Regions from separate parts of the Homo sapiens genome. Here region 2 is linked to region 1. Evidence: fine-mapped expression QTL. A gene starts in region 1. The other region holds a variant in brackets. All regions are shown on one strand. Distances are from middle to middle. Region 1 holds the start of TRIM52 (tripartite motif containing 52). Region 2 holds the start of RACK1 (receptor for activated C kinase 1).

Region 1 (8,326 bases):
TAGTTCCTTGTACTGTTAACTATTATTATGACTTTGGTCAGTAAAATTCTAAATCATGCGACTATAATTTACATGTTTACCAATGGAAGGAAGTGACAATGAACTGCCTAAAGAATGAAAGAGACACCCAGGCATGGTGGCTCACATCTGTAATCCCAGCACTTTGGGAGGCCGAGGCGGGGGGATCAGGAGGTCAAGAGATTGAGACCATCCTGGCCAACATGGTGAAACCCCGTCTACACTAAAAATGCAAAAATTAGCTGGGCATGGTGGTGCGCACCTGTATTCCCAGCTACTTGGGAGGCTGAGGCAGGAAAATCGCTTGAACTCGGGAGGCGTAGGTTGCAGTGAGCCGAGATCGCACCACTGCACTCTAGCCTGATGACAGAGCGAGACTCCAGCTCAAATAAATAAGTAAATAAATAAATAAATAAAAATAAAAAAAGATTTGTGTCTTAACTGTGCACTTAACAATATTTACTATAAAATGGGGGAAGGGGATGATGATAAAAGTTAGCTGAGGAAGGCTGGGCACAGTGGCTCATGCCTGTAATCCCAGCACTTTGGGAGGCCCAGGTGGTGGATCTCCTGAGGTCAGGAGTTCAAGACCAGCCTGGCCAACATGGTGAAACCCCATCTCTACTAAAAATGCAAAATTAGCTGGGCATGGTGGCATGTGCCTGTAATCGCAACTACTAGGGGTGCTGAGGCAGGAGGATCGCTTGAACCCGGGAAACGGAGGTTGCAGTGAGCCGAGATCATGCCATTGCACTTCTGCCTGGGCAACAGAGCAAGATACCGTCTCAAAAAAAAAAGTTAGAAGAGAAATGGAAGGTTCTCTCTTTTCCTCAGCTTCAGTATACTAAAACCCAGAAGCATAGGACATAAGTTTTTTCCATGGGATACTTTAGTTATCACCTTGGGTGAAAACATGGTACTAGGATTTGTCCTTCAAGTCAGGTTAATGTAACAGAGGTAGCAGTGACTTATGGTTAGATTTGTGCCTTAACTGTGCACTTCCCAATATTTGCTATAAAATGGGGGCAGGGGGGTGATAATAATATCTAATACATGAAGCCTGTAGGACAGTGCTCTGTGTTTGTGTTTTGACTGCAACTCAAAGAAAGCAATATATTTTTAGATGAAGTATATACATGTATATATATATAACTTAAAAGTTTCATAAAGCAGTACTTACCCTTACTATGTTCCATGTGTTCTAATATTTTCTCTTACTTCATTTTGAGATAATGCTAGGCATGACCCATTTATTTTAAGACACACTAATTGGTCAAAAAACAATTTGAAAACCACTGCTATAGGAGAACACGAGGAAATATATTTTATAAACTGTAAAGCACTACTAAGACGTGAGCAGCGGCTGCTGCATATCCAGGTCAACCTTTATGGGCCTGAAGACAACCTCTCCTTCGTTTGGGCACTGCTAGGAGTCAAATCTACCTAGACTTTTGGTAAGGAAGATGGTACTCATGCTCATTGTCATTGAGACAATTATCTAATGCTTAGAAGTCAAGACTAGAAAGCAAGGCATTAACCATATCAGCACCCAAACAAGGGAAGACAAGTTACAAGAAAGCCAAATAAAACAGCAAACATTTGTTTAGTGCTTTATGGTTAACATATATGATCTCTTTTAATCCTTACAATCCTAGGGAAAAAGTGAAGCTCAAGGAGGTTGACACCTGCCCAAGACTAGACAGTAAGTGGCAGAGCCAGGTCATCTGATCCTAAATCCCGCACTCCTTCCACTATGATAAAATACCAGGAAAGAAAAGTGATCAGGATATGAGGCACATTCTGATCCATCAAAGATGCTTATATGCTTTGCCTTTCTCTAGAAGGAAAACGGACCCCACTGAAGGTAGAGATGCAATCCCAGACTTTCAGAGGGGGGGTGTGGCCAATTGCTATCAGTAGTTTAGGACTCACATCTGGCATTTCTGTCTACCAATACATCTATTTTGACACTGCTTGTGCTGAGGTCCCAAATGTCTATTATCTCCAAGTACTGTGGCTTTCTATTCCTATCTGTACCTGTCCCAGGGAATTGGTCAAGGACTCACATTAGGGAGAAATGAAGTACTGGGTATCTGTTACTCACGTCCCTTACACTTAGGTAGACTGCCAGTATTAGCAGTAGTGGTCCGCTTCCAGTGACCGTCATATTATCTGTTCAGCTTCCTCTGGGGAAGCCAATCTGCCCCAATCTTCATGGTTTTGTGTCTCCTTTTTTACCCATATGACCATCTCTCTCCACCGTGTCTCCCTCATCAAATAAAGAGAAGTTTAGCAACTAAGTACCTGAGGAGGTGGGAAAGGAATGCTACTCATTCCTCAGCTCTCCTAGTTACCTTTCCACTCCCTTCATCCCCCCACATTCCCTCATTTCTCTCACCTGGTACTCCTGCACCACCTCCTCCAAAGGCAGCACGCTGTGCTGTTTGTGGCTCCTGGATTCTCGGCACACCACACAGATGGCCTCTTTGTCCACCTCACAGAAGAGTTTCAGGGCTTCCTGGTGTTTAAAGCACATGCCCTGATCATTACTCCGGTTTCCCCGATAAGGAGTGGGGCACATCTGGCGAATTATCTGGACCATGTTGGCCAGCTGCAAGTTGGGACGAAAGCTGCGACGTGTAAAGCTCTTTCGGCACTGGGGGCAGGTGAACTGCCCTGGAAGGGGCAAGGAAGGAGGCGGGTGGATGTCAGGATACAGCTCTTCATCTTCGTCCTCATCGTATGCTTCCAGTATTTCTTCTTCTCGGTAGACATCAATTCTCAGGTCAGGTCTCAAGCCTCCTAGGTAATAGTCCTGATCTTCCTCTTCTTCTTCTTCCTCCTCGTCCCACATATAGTCTACGTTGTCCCAATTAGTTATACCACTGTCACCGAGCCAGAGTTCATCGTCATCTTGGTCTTGGAACAACTCTTCGTCAGCATTCCCCCGATACAACACCTCTCGAATGGAGCCGTCCCATCCATCCATGGCCCCCACCGCTTCCTCGTCCTCCTCCTCCTCCCATTCATCTTCCTCCTCGTTCTGGTCCTCCTCGTCCTCCTTACTCCACAGCTGGGTCACACACCCTCGGCAGAAGTTGTGCCCACAGCTGATGGACACGGGGTCCTTGAAGTAATCCAAGCAGATGGCACACACCGCTTCCTCCTGAAGGGTCTGCATGGGGCTGGGAGTAGTGGCATAACCAGCCATCTTAATGCCCGCCGGCAGGTGTAGATACGTCAGCTTGGAGCTGAGGAGCGGGGACGCGCCTGCAGGCCTGCCTCCAAACTACTCTGGTGACCCGAGGCTGTCCTCAACCTTGCTCTTCTTCCTCGGGGCCGCAGGGGAGCTTTGACCCCCTCTCTCAGGGTGCGAACGCCCAGATCCAGACTCACAGCCTCTCTCTGGGATCGGTGGGGACAGAGCAGGCTGCAGCCCCCAGCTGCTCGGTCCTGTCACGTCTCTCGCTACCCTCAGGGTGTGCCCTACACTGCGGCGTCCGCCTCAGATGCAGCCGCTGGCTACCCTGCCCGAGGCGACGCAAAATGACGTCTCGCTCCTGCACACGCTCTGGAGAGACGCTCTAGGCCGGCGGAGGACCACGTCTCTATGGTGTGCCGGGGGCCGCGCGGGCCGGGAGTTGGGTGGGCTGGGGGACAGGCGCGCCCGCGCCGCCCGCTCCAGCTGGGCTAGTGCTGCACATTCCGGCCAGCCCCTCCTCAAGACCCCATTCCCAAGCCCCTTCTCAGCTCCCTCGGGCCGGCAGAGCGGCTCTGATCAGGTCAGCGGCGGACGCCGGGAAGAGGCCCGGCTTGGGAGAGGTGGTTTGGTGGGTTGGCTGGTTCTAGATGGTGGGGGGGTCAACACTTGAGGGGGACTGGGTCTCCGAGCCGTTGTCCAGCCTGAGCCGGAGCCCCAGGAAGGTTAGAGGGAAGGGGGATAAATCTCTCCGGAAGCCCCGCCCGGGCCGGGGCCGAGTTGGTCCGCGGCGGTGGGGAAGCCTGGGACACCACCCTGGTGCTGTCGCCCGTCCCGCCGTCCGCGCTTGGGGTGCCTTTGTGGGGATCCGGGCGCCGCACAGCTGGGAGGGCCTGCCGCCCGGGAGGCTCGGATCCGGGGCGCCCAGTGCCCCCCGCTGCCTTCCGTGAGCCGTCGGGCCCCAGCTCCACGTAGGCCTCAGACCCAGCCCTGTTTCTGCTTGCGGGGCCGCGGCTGCGCAGTATTGCGGCGTCTGCCAGCAAAGCTGCGCCCCGGTCGTGGGTCCCCTGAGGGGGCCGGGGCTCAAGTTCCCTTCGGTGCTGCCGCCTGCGTCGGGCCAGGGTTCCGAGTTCCAGCCCTGAGCTCTGTGAGCTCGGCCGGGAGGGGGCTGGATTTGGGACCACACTTCCTCACCGCCGTGGTTTAGACTTAGTTTGAGAGCGGCTGGCCCCTCCTTCCTGTCCCGGTGTCCTCCGCTGTCTGTTATGCCCTTCACTCCTCCCTGGGGAGGGAGGGCTGGGGGCGCTGTCTGGGTCTGTTTTCCACCCCAGCGGGGCCCTAGGGCAGTGTCATTTAGACTCCACTCTGTCACCTTTCCTGGAGAGGGGACCTGATCCAGGGCTGAGAGGTTTTTTTTTTTTTTTTTTTTTTTGAGATGGAGTCTGGCTGTTGCCCAGGATGCAGTGCAGTGGCGCGATCTCGGCTCACTGCAAGCTCCGCCTCCCAGGTTCACGCCACTCTCCTGCCTCAGCCTCCCGAGTAGCTGGGACTACAGGCGCCCGCCACCACGCCCGGCTAATTTTTTTTTTTTTGTATTTTTAGTAGAAACGGGGTTTCACCCTGTTAGCCAGGATGGTCTCGATTTCCTGACCTCGTGATCCGCCCACCTCGGCCTCCCAAAGTGCGGGCTGAGAGATCTTACAGTGGGAGGGGGAATCAGGCCCTGGGGAAAGGCTTCTCAGGGGTTGTCTCCTTCTGTCTTCTGTCTCTGCAGGTAGGGATAGAACCAGGTCAGGCCTGGATTTGTAGTCCCAGAGAACAGAGGATGGAGATGGGGGCTGGACGCAGCTCAGAGGGGCTGGTGCTCATGGGCTCTGTGTATGCCTTCTCCTGTGGCCTGGTTCTGTGTACAGATGTTCTACCCCAGTGCTGAGGGCCAAGACACCCTCTTGGCCTTGGTGCTGGGGGCATCCTGGGGCAAGGAGTGTAGGCAGAACTCCTCAACATTGGAGATTTGGGGAAATTGTGTCCCCTCCCTTTTAGACTCCTGTAGCCCCCTGCAGTGGCACGATCTGGGCCCACAGCAATCTCCACCTCCTGGGCTCAAGCAGTCCTCCCACTTCAGCTTCTGGAATAGCTGGGAACACAGGCATGCACCACCACTCCAGGCTAATTTCTTTATTTTTTTATAGAGACAGGGTTTCGTCATGTTGCCCAGGCTAAAGTGCCGTGGCTATTTATAGTCACGATTATTGCACCCTACCACCTCAAACTCCTGGACTCAAGTGATCCTCCCGCCTCAGCCTGTGGAGTAGCTGGGACTACAGGCATGCACCACTATGCCTGATTTACCCATTCTCTTTTAGATTTTTTTTTTTTTTGAGAGAGGGTCTTGCTCTGTTGCCCAGGCCAAATGCAGTGGTATGATCATGGCTCATTGCACCCTTGACCCCTGGGCTCAAGTGATCATCCTGCCTCAGCCTCCCAAGTAGCTGGGACTACAGGTGTGCATTACCACATCTGGCTAATTTTTATTATTTTTTTTTTTGTAGAGATGAGGTCCTGCTATGTTGCCCAGGCTAGTCTTGAACTCCTGGTTTAAGCAGTCCTGCCTCAGCCTTACAAAGTGCGGGAATTACAGATGTGAGCCACTACGCTCAGCCCCATACAAGGTTTTTTTTCTTTCTTTACCTGCCCTTCAATAAGAAGTACATTGCACATACTGATCCAATATAGACCTGCACATATATAACAGAAAGAAAATTTCTGCAGTGTTCTTTCCCTTATGACATCCAAAGCACTCTGATATTTTCTGTTTTATTTCAGTAAAATGCTGTTGAAGGCCCACGGGCATGACTGCACCCCTCACTAATTGGTCATTGGTTTGGGGAGGACACCACTGTCCCAGTGGAACCTTGAGCACACCTTGGAGCCCTCCTCTTCCTCTCCGGACCTGTGCCAAACTGTGAGTGGCACAGAGCAAGGACTGTATGTGTTCTCTTCTTTGTTGCATACTCAGTTCCTTGACCACAGTGCCAAGCACACAGCGAGCACTCCCTGTGTATCTGCTGAGTAAATAAACGAATGAACAAACCCAACACATTTCAGCCAAGTCCTGCTGATGTTTCTCCTCCGATCTAGCTCCTCCTTTCCAGCCTTACTTCTGCCACTCCAGATTTCACCCCCATCAGCTTCAGACTGGATAAAAGGAAACCATTTCTCTAAAGGATCACTTGCTCTCTCATTTCAGGCCATCCTGCAGCCACCAGAACCTTCCACATGAAATGAAAGGCTCACCACTTCATAGGCTTTAAGGAAATTCTTGGCCAGGTGTGGTGCCTCACTCATGTAATCCCAGTGCTTTAAGAGGCCAAGATGGGAGGATTGTTTGAGCCAGCTGTTTGAGACCAGCCTGGGCAACGTCATGAGACCCCATCTCCACAAAAAAAAAAAAAAAGAAAATTGGCTGGGTGCGGTGGCTCATGTCTGTAATCCCAGCAATTTTGGAGGCTGAGGCGGGTGGATCACTTGAGGTCAGGAGTTTGAGACCAGCCTGGCCAACATGGTGAAACCCCGTCACTACTAAAAATACAAAAATTAGCCAGGCGTGGCGGCAGGTGCCTGTAATCCCAGCTACTTGCGAGGCTGAGGAAGAATTGCGTGAACCTAGGAGGTGGAGGTTGCAGTGAGCCAAGATCATGCTGCTGCACTCCAGCCTGGGCAACAGAGTGAGACTCCATCTCAAAAATAATAAAAATAAATTAAAAAAATTAAAAATTACCTGCGTGTGATGGTGTGCGCCTGTAGTTCCAGCTACTTGGGAGGCTGAATTGGGAGGATCATTTGAGCCCAGGAGGTCAAGGCTGCAGTAAGCAGTGATGGTGCCACTGCCCTCAGCCTGGGCAACAGAACAACATGCAATCTTAAAAAAAAAAAATCCTGGCCAGGCACAGTGGCTTATGACTGTAATCCCAGCACTTTAGGAGACGGAGGCGGGCAGATCACGAGGTCAGGAGATTGAGACCATCCTGGCTAACACGGTGAAACCCCGTCTCTACTAAAAATACAAAAAATTAGCTGGGTGTGGTGGCAGGCGCCTGTAGTCCCAGCTACTTGGGAGGCTGAGGCAGGAGAATGGCGTGAACCCGGGAGGTAGAGCTGGCAGCGAGCCGAGATGGCGCCACTGCACTCCAGCCTGGGCGACAGAGAGACTCCATCTCAAAAAAAAAAAAAAAAAAAAAAAAAGCCAAGGGGAAGGCCCAACCCTAGCCTTGTCTTCTTTCTCCTCTTTGTGGAGAAGCTCACAGATGTGGGTGTAGCAGAAGTGTGACTGCGGCCCACGCTGCCTCCCTGCGTCTTCTCACCTTCTCCTTGCCCTGCGCTGTCACACCAGCGAACGAACCACACAGCCTCCCCTCAAGGCAAAAAGCCGGGGTCAGGGGTCAACCTGCCAGCTGCCCACGCCGAGGGTTTGACAGCCTCAGCTAGGGCTCTCTAGGCTCCTCCTCTCCACAGTCTTTAACGGGGAGGAGGCCCGGGGCAATGCTGCTGGCAGAGGAGGAGTGGGCTCTAGGTTAGGGAGAAGTGTGGCTGTGCACTGAATTGCTCTTGGCAGTAGCTCACTGAGACTAACTCGGGGGAAGGCACTGTTGGTCCTGGCCTGGGAAAACACGGAAGAGGGCTAGAGGGAGTGAGCTGCAGTGCATTGCGGGCAGGGTCCTGCAGGCTCCCAGGGTCTCGGCCCCAAGAGACAGAACCCCTGCCCTGCCTGGCCGTAAATTAGATGAGGCTGAGAGGAGCAGGGGCTGGAGCTGGTTTTCTCGGAGCCTCTGCAGCGCTAGGCCTTAAGCACACAGCCCCTTCACTCTTCCCGGCCCATGCACCAGGGAGAGGACACGAGGTGGAGTGGCCTGGCCCCTCTGTCCATCCAATCTCTGGCTGCAGTAGGAGAGAGGGCCCCTGCATGCATCATCATCAATTCCAAAGGGCTCCTAGGTTTGTGGGAATTTCAGGCCAGGCAGGTGGTGGGAGAAGGAGACTGAGCTCAGGTTCTTCCCCTAATCAGAGTGAAGATCAAAACACCCTGCTCCTGAGTTCCCTGCATCGGTA
Region 2 (8,326 bases), 21 kb before region 1:
GAGGAATGAGGATTCATCTTCCACTCTTACGTGTCAGGGGTTGGACCTGCGGAGTCTGCTTTTTCTAAAAATTGACTGCAACCACTTTGAAATCAGTTCTTTCCCTCAAGAAGGTTCCCCAGGTTGAAGGTAGGCCCTGATGATCTGCACGTGGTATGTAGGACGCTGATGGGGTTTAAGTTCAGGGAAACTGCTATGTGACTTCTCACAAACATCCCACCTGATGCTACCCCAATCCTGAGAACTTAGACGGACAGCTCCCCTTCAAAGCCTTGTTTACTTAGTCCATACCTTGCATCCAGTTCGCTAGTGCAAACTTAATGTGTAAGCAATGTAGATAGAATGGAGCTTTTTTGCATATAAGAAAAAAAAACCTAAAAGTCAGAAAAGCCAGTTTTTTTTTTATTTGTAAAGCTCTGCCATAAACTTCTAGCGTGTGCCAATGGTCACCTGCCACACTCGCACCAGGTTGTCCGTGTAGCCAGCAAACAGAGTCTGCAGGGAAGAAATGACAGTGACAGGTCAGGCTGGCATAAATTCTGCAGTCTCACTAGATTCAGCCCAAGTGGCTTTTTTTGAGATCCGTCCACCTTGCTCCATTGTCTAGGCTGGAGTGCAGGGGTGCGATCCTGGCTCACTACAGCCTTAAGCCCCTGCAGTTCAAGAGATCCTCCCACCTCAGCCTCCAGTAGGCATGTGCCACAACGCCGGGTAGACTGTAAGAAACCGCTCTCATTTCAACAGCCAGCTTGTAAGTGGTGGTTATGTATTCCTTGAGGAAGAAACAGCTGGTGATAAGGCTCCAGACATTTGAAAACTGGTCAGATTAATTAAGGTATTAATTGAAGGCTGACAGCCACTGCGTTCCACATCAGTCTTCCCTCTGATGCAGAAACACATTCACTGGCATGGCAAACGAGGGCATCCTCATCAACCTGGCTTGTCATTTCACTTTATGCCAAGGACACTGCTCTTGTGTCTGACAGACTAGATATACTAACAGAATGAGAGGGAGAAAATTAACTGGAAGCAGAATCACCTGAGAGGACAGACCCACTTACCTGGCCATCAGCAGACCAGGCCAGGGAGGTGCACTGGGGTGGTTCTGCCTTGCTGCTGGTACTGATAACTTCTTGCTTCAGTTCATCTACAATGATCTTTCCCTCTAAATCCTGGGGAACAGGGCAAAAGCAACCTTAAGACTTACCAATCAAGAGAGTCTCCTCTTAAAAGCCCCTCAAGATTCTCAAGTTAAAAAGGGATGATTTTGCTCCCTGGGGTCCATGTATCAATGCCTACATGCATTTTCAGTTGCCACTAGTGGAAGGATGGTTTGCTACTGACATCTAGTAGAAGCTGGAAATGCTGCTAAACATCCTGGAATGTACAGGACTGCACACCACAACAGAGTTACTCAGACCAAAATGTCATTACGTGGAGGCTGAGAAAGCTTAGCTCCCAGGTGGGAGTCAGATGGCATATATAATAACCAAAACATTGCCAGGGCTCAGAGTGCAGCCAGGTACCCAGTCAATTGTAACCCACACTCACCCAGATCTTGATGCTGGGGCCTGTGGCAGCACACAGCCAGTAGCGGTTAGGGCTGAAGCACAGGGCGTTGATGATGTCCCCACCATCTAGCGTGTAAAGGTGTTTGCCTTCGTTGAGATCCCATAACATGGCCTGGCCATCCTGGACACAGGTAAGGTAAATCAGGACACTGTGACCTCTTCCAGATGTTAATTCTGCCCATCTCAAGATTCTGTCAGAATCAATTCTTACCTTTCCTCCATTACCCCAGGCTTCTTTGAAAGCTAATGACTCAAGTACCAATATTTATCTCTGTATACCTTTCCTTTAACGTAAGACCTTACCAACCCCATCAAAAAACCCCTCCCAACTTACATAAATCACTCCAATCATTTCTGAAAACCAGGATCCCAATCTCATCAACTGCTTCAAGAAACCAACTTTAGGCTGGGTGCGGTGGCTCATGCCTGTAATCCCAGCACTTTGGGAAGCCGAGGTGGGCGGATCACCTGAGGTCAGGAGTTCAAGACCAGCCTGGCCAACATGGTAAAATCCTCTCTACTAACATACAAAAATTACCCAGGAGTGATGGCGGGTGCCTGTAATCCTAGCTACTCGGGAGGCTGAGATGGGAGAATTGCTTGAACCCGGGAGATGGTTGCAGTGAGCCGAGATCGCGCCACTGCACTCCAGCCTTGGCAGCCGAGTGAGACTCCGTCTCAAAAAAAAAACAAAAAACAAACAAACAAAAAAACAACAAAAAAAACCCACAGGCTTATAGAAAATCATCTTTTTCTTCCAGATAGTATGCCTTAACTGTCATTTGCTGAAAGTAATCTTTGGAAACATATTCTCAGATTGCCATTATCTCATTATCCTCCTAAAACCATCTTGGCTAATGTTTGCCATTTTACGTTAGAGACGCTGGCTAAGTGCTCCTTCCATGACGCTGTCTTCCACTGAGTAGGAGACGCCTTGTCCCCAAATACCTTGCCTCCAGAAGCACAGAGGGATCCATCTGGAGAGACAGTCACCGTGTTCAGATAGCCTGTGTGGCCAATGTGGTTGGTCTTCAGCTTGCAGTTAGCCAGGTTCCATACCTGCATAGACGTGCGGTTGACAGGTGAACATCCTAGCTCTTGATGAGCTAGGGTCAGGCCCAACAAAAAAGGGCTTGGCACTTCTGGATACGGTAGCCATTTCTCATTCAGTAACATGTCCTGGCCACTTCACGTTAGATTATAACACATATCCAATGCAGTGTGCTGACTTACAAGGGACATCAGACCATGTGACAAGAGAAAGAGTCAACTGAGGGCATCTGCAAAGCTTTCCACAGGACTTGGAGTGTATGACCACCTGGGAGCACACCCTGACTGGTAAAGCCCCTGCCTTGGCTTGACGCTCACCTTGACCAGCTTGTCCCAGCCACAGGAGACGATGATAGGGTTGCTGCTGTTGGGCGAGAAGCGGACACAAGACACCCACTCTGAGTGGCTCTCATCCTACAGAAGATGGAAAGGAAATTAGGGCAAACAGTCCTATCCCATGAAATGCTAGACCTCCCAGCCCTACCCCTCAGTAGGATGATGGCTGGCAGCACCTTTCAAAAACCAAGAACCCAAACCTTTAAGCTCAATAGAATCCCTTTAGATTCCAGACAAGAAAATTTTTTAAAAATTTAGAGATGGTGGCTGGACGCAGAAGCTCACGCCTCTAATCCCAGGGAGGGCGAGGTAAGTGGATCACCTGAGGTCAGGAGTTTGAGACCAGCCTGGCCAAAATGGTGAAACCCTGTCTCTACCAAAAATACAAAAATTAACCAGGTGTGGCGGCGGGTGCCTGTAATCCCAGCTACTGGGGAGGCTCAGGCAGGAACACTGCTTAAACCCAGGAAGCGAAGGGTGCAATGAGCCAAGATTGTGCCATTGCACTCCAGCCTGGGCAACGAACAAGTGAAACTTCATCTCCAAAAAAAATATAATAATAATAATAGGGCCTGGTGTGGTGGCTCACGCCTGTAATCCCAGCACTTTAGGAAGCCAAGGTGGATGGATCATGAGGTCAGGAGATCAAGACCATCTTGGCTAACATGGTGAAACCCTGTCTCTACTAAAAATACAAAAAATTAGCCAGACCTGATGGCAGGCGCCTGTAGTCCCAGCGACTCGGGAGGCTGAGGCAGGAGAATGGCGTGAACCCGGGAAGCAGAGCTTGCAGTGAGCCGAGATCGCAC[T/C]ACTGCACTCCAGCCTGGGCGACAGAATGAGACTGTCTCAAAACAAAACAAAATAGTAGTGATAAGGCCGGGCACGGTGACTCACGCCTGTTATCACAGCAGTTTGGGAGGCTGAGGCGGGCGGATCACCTGAGGTCAGGAGTTTGAGACCAGCCTGGCCAACATGGTGAAACCCCATCTCTACTAAAAATACAAAAATTAGCTGGGCATGATGGCACACGCCTGTAATCTTCTCAGACACCCAACCATCGGCTTCTGAGCTGCGGCAACTCCCTTTCACCTTTTCACCGCCCCCCACCCATCCCCAAATCCCCGATCCAGCCCCCAATCTGCGATCCCAAATCTGCGATCTAGCCCAGAATCCATCTCAAAAAAGAAAAAAAATAAATAAAATTTTGTTTAAATAGATGGGGTCTCACTATGTTGGCCAGGCTGCTCTCCTGTCCTCAAGCAGTCCTCCCACCTTGGCCTACCAGAGAGCTAGGATTACAGGCGTGAGCCCAGCCCAGACAAGACTTTAAAAAGGCAAAGAAAGCGGGGGACGGTGGCTCACGCTTATAATCCCAGCACTTTGGGAGGCTGAGGCGGGCAGATCACCTGAGGTTGGGAGTTCAAGACCAGCCTGACCAACATGGAGAAACCCTGTCTCTACTAAAAATACAAAACCGGGCATGGTGGCGCATGCCTCTAATCCCAGCTACTTGGGAGGCTGAGGCAGGAGAACTGCTTGAACCCAGGAGGCGGAGGTTGTGGTCAGCCGAGATCACGCCATTGTACTTCAGCCTGGGGAACAAGCGAAACTGTCTCCGAGAAAAAAAAAAAAAAAGGCAAAGATAGGCAGGTGGGGGCTCACGCCTGTAATCCCAACACTTTGGGAGGGCGAGGCAGGCAAATCGCCTGAGCCCAGGAGTTTGAGACCACCCTGGGCAACATGGTGAAACCCTGTCTCTACTAAAACACAAAAAATTAGCTAGGCGTGGTGGCTGCGCACCTGTAGTACCAGCTACTCGGGAGACTGAGGCACCAGAATCCCTTGAGCCCGGGAGGCAGAGGTTGCAGTGAGCCGAGACTGCGCCACTGCACTCCAGCTTGGGCAAGAGTGAGACTGTCGCCAAAAAAAAAAAAAAAAAGCAAAGTTTAAGAGGGTGGAAGAGATCCTTGGAGATGGCTCACTTTACCTGGACAGTGTATTTGCACACACCCAGGGTATTCCATAGCTTGATGGTTTTATCTCGAGATCCAGAGACAATCTGCCGGTTGTCAGAGGAGAAGGCCACACTCAGCACATCCTTGGTATGGCCCACAAATCGCCTCGTGGTGGTGCCCCTGAGAGGGAGGAGTTTGTCATTCTCAGACTTAGCAAACACTCTCATTCAACGGTCAGACTCATTTCCTGGGCTTTGTCTCTGTCTCATTGCATCACTCATACAACCCTGGATTTGGCTCTGATCACAGAGTCAAGTGACTGAGTATATGAAAGAGAAGAGCCAAGTGACAGAGAATCCCTTCAGAATTGCAGGACATGTCCTCACTCCCACTTGGGGATTGGCTGACAATGCCATCTGTCATCACCAGGACCCTCTAATTCCACCTGCCAATTACCTGAGCTTTCAAGGTAAAACATGTTCAAACTGCTGCCCACTCAGAACTTTTGCACCTGGCAAAAATGTTCAGCCACACTCCTCAGCAATGCTGAGTAACTTATTTAAAGTGAGGGAGGCCAAACATCTTCTGTAGGTGTGCTCTGCTTTCCAGTTCCCAAATGGACTGGATCTCCCCTGGGAAACCAGCCAATTGCATCCACCTCACTTCTGCCCAGATTCTTCCCAAGGCCCCAGAGCTAAGTGAGCAGCTACTTGCGTTGTGAGATCCCAGAGGCGCAGGGTTCCATCCCAGGAGCCTGAGAGGGCAAACTGGCCATCTGAGGAGATAACCACATCACTAACAAAGTGGGAGTGACCCCGCAGAGCACGCTGTGGAATTCCATAGTTGGTCTCATCCCTGGTCAGTTTCCACATGATGATGGTCTTATCTAAAGGAGGTAAAACAGAAGAAAAATCAGTGAGGAACCCGCAGCCCGTTTAACACACTGGATAATTCACTAAGTGTCAAGGTCATGAGTGGGTTAACAACAACTAAGGACGCTTAAGGAGGGATGGAAACAACAGACAAGAGCAGTTACAGACCAGGACTGAGTGGCTCTATTCCAGACTAAAAACGCACGTAGAGGTAAACTGTACCCTGATAACTTTTTTTTTTCTTGAGATGGAGTCTCGCTCTGTCGCCCAGGCTGGAGTGCAGTGGCATGATCTCGGCTCACTCCAAACTCCACCTCCCGTGTTCAAGCAATTCTCCCGCCTCAGCCTCCCAAGTAGCTGGGATTACTTGGCCAGCTGGCACCTGCCAGCACGTCTGGCTAATTTTTTAACTAGAGATGCGGTTTCACCATTGGCCAGGCTAGTCTCTAACTCCTGATCTCAAGTGATCCACTCGCCTCTGCCTTCCAAAGTGCTGGGATTATAGGCGTGAGCCACCGCGCCCAGCCTGTATCCTGAGAACTTAATTTAGGTGCCAGAAATACAGACACCCTTTCCTGAAACTCAGACGAACTCAACAGCCACTTTGTGTCTTCTCTGCAACCAAATGCACAGCAGTTTGTGGCTGTAGAGTAGCTGGGGCCTCCTATGCCTACCTCTGAGGGCCGACAGAAATGTAGTAATGAATGCTGGAAAAGCCACTTCAGGCGCTACAGGATTGGATGCTTTTACTGAAACCTGTCCCACTCAACAAATTTTACGATTAACAGCCAGACATGATTCAAAAGTCAGACAATTCTTAACAGTGTAGCAGCAAAGCGGAAGCACAAGAAGCGTCTAAACGCAGTCAGGAACACAGGGATAGGGACGGGGAGAACCAGGGGCAGAAAAAGTAGGCCGACACTTGAGCCACGAGGTCCTCTGGAGTCCACCTGCCTCCCCACGAGCCTTGGGCCGGGCGGCAGCTCAGAAACAGCCTCTGGATTTCAGCACCGACACTCAGATGGCATGTTGGGGTCATCACCGCCCCGCCCGGCCCGTAGGCCCCCGGCCACACTACGAAGGAGAAGGCAAAAGATATTTTAAAAGTTTCCAACTCTCCAACCCTCCTAGCAGCTGCGAGCTGATGTACACGTAGGTTCTCATCTGCAATGTGGTTCGCCCGGGTTGAGGCCTAGGCTCGGGTCCGCACGCCCCAATTCACAATGGGGCAGAGAAGTCTGTCAGTCCCCGCCAACTCGCGCGCCACCGGCCTGCCACACCACACGCGGAATTCCCTACACGACACGCGGAATCCCCCAGCCCTGCAATCTCGGGTCCTGAAATCTACCTTAGTCCGTACCTCGAGAGGCGGAGAGGATCATGTCCGGGAACTGCGGGGTAGTAGCGATCTGGGTTACCCAGCCGTTGTGGCCCTTGAGGGTGCCACGAAGGGTCATCTGCTCAGTCATGGCGGCGGCGAGAGCGTGTGTCGCTGCAGCGACGAGGATGGCACTGGATGGCTTAGAGAAACTAGCACCACAACCTCTCCTGCCGCCGCCTTGCAGTGAAAGAGAGAGAGAAAAGCCCCCCGCCGGAACCGGAAATACCCGCTCGACCATGCAAAATGGCGAGCCCCATGATACATTTCTGCTCAAGATGGCGGCGCCATGTAATGCAAAAGGCAGAGGGAAATTGCAAGGCATCACAGTCCCGTCTTCCGTACAACAAAATCTGACTGCACTTTACAAATACACTCTGAAACAAGCACATTCAAGTGTTTAAAAAGGCTTCTCAGGGATGATGTAGAGCGAGAAGCGAAAGAGGTGAAGTGTACGGCACATTCCCATGAGGACCGCCGGGCTGCTTCCCCGCCCCTATGTGGCATAGCTCGAGCTCCGCCTGTTCCACTTGGTGCGGGGAGGGTTGACGGGGCAACCCCAGGGGAGCTTAATTTTCATTTCACTATCGTGGGTAACGATGGGCAATTTAAAAAGTAGAGTATTAAAATGTTAAAAATAAACTTTAAAACTGTGCTTCCGGAGGGTGTTCTCCCCTCACGAGGTTTTTGTTCTGATGCACACCAACTCCGGAAGGACTTAGTCCAGGCTGGACTAAGGCAGGAGAGGGTTACTCTGGATGAACTAAGAATTGGTCTCTTTTTCCCGGGCGCGGTGGCTCATGCCTGTAATCCTACCACTTTGAGAGGCCGAGGCGGGTGGATCACTTAAGGTCAGGAGTTCAAGACTAGCCTGGCCAACATGATGCAACCTCTTTCCAAATAAATAAATAAAAAAAATTAAAATTAGCCAGGCGTGGTGGGGGGTGCCTGTAATCCCAGTTACTCGGGAGGCTGAGGCAGGAGAATCCCTTGAACCTGAGAGGCGGAGGTTGCAGTGAACCGAGATCGCGCCACTGCACTCCAGCCTGGGCAGCAGAGCGAGACTCCGACTCAAATAAATAAATACATACATACAATAAAATAATAAAGTAAAAATTGCCCTGTGTGTTGCTAGACTGCCAATCCGTTCCTGCCTAGGCCAGA

What was found. PIP is the estimated chance that this variant, and not a neighbour inherited with it, causes the effect.
Region 2: its variant is fine-mapped to the expression of TRIM52 in whole blood (TOPMed, PIP above 0.99).

What each region holds. Positions count from the first base shown.
Region 1 is chr5:181,257,585-181,265,910 of GRCh38, forward strand. TRIM52 (tripartite motif containing 52) reads right to left here and starts at 3,559. Exons shown (of 2, transcript NM_001346048.2): 1 at 2,417-3,559. The coding sequence starts at 3,229. TRIM52-AS1 (TRIM52 antisense RNA 1) reads left to right here and starts at 3,628. Exons shown (of 3, transcript NR_102762.1): 1 at 3,628-3,800. CTC-338M12.4 (a long non-coding RNA gene) reads left to right here. Exons shown (of 3, transcript NR_109909.1): 3 at 1-2. RefSeq lists enhancers at 3,260-3,309, 3,490-3,539, 7,271-7,889, 7,890-8,326 and silencers at 3,680-3,829, 3,940-4,189.
Region 2 is chr5:181,236,548-181,244,873 of GRCh38, forward strand. It overlaps RACK1 (receptor for activated C kinase 1), which reads right to left and starts at 7,359. Exons shown (of 8, transcript NM_006098.5): 1 at 7,145-7,359; 2 at 5,627-5,798; 3 at 4,945-5,092; 4 at 2,940-3,035; 5 at 2,520-2,630; 6 at 1,552-1,692; 7 at 1,062-1,172; 8 at 350-495. The coding sequence starts at 7,253. The coding sequence ends at 430. SNORD96A (small nucleolar RNA, C/D box 96A) reads right to left here and starts at 5,342; the gene lies at 5,271-5,342. SNORD95 (small nucleolar RNA, C/D box 95) reads right to left here and starts at 6,829; the gene lies at 6,767-6,829. RefSeq lists enhancers at 4,973-5,022, 7,154-7,213, 7,314-7,453, 7,534-7,603. The variant T/C (reference allele first, on the strand shown) is at 3,767.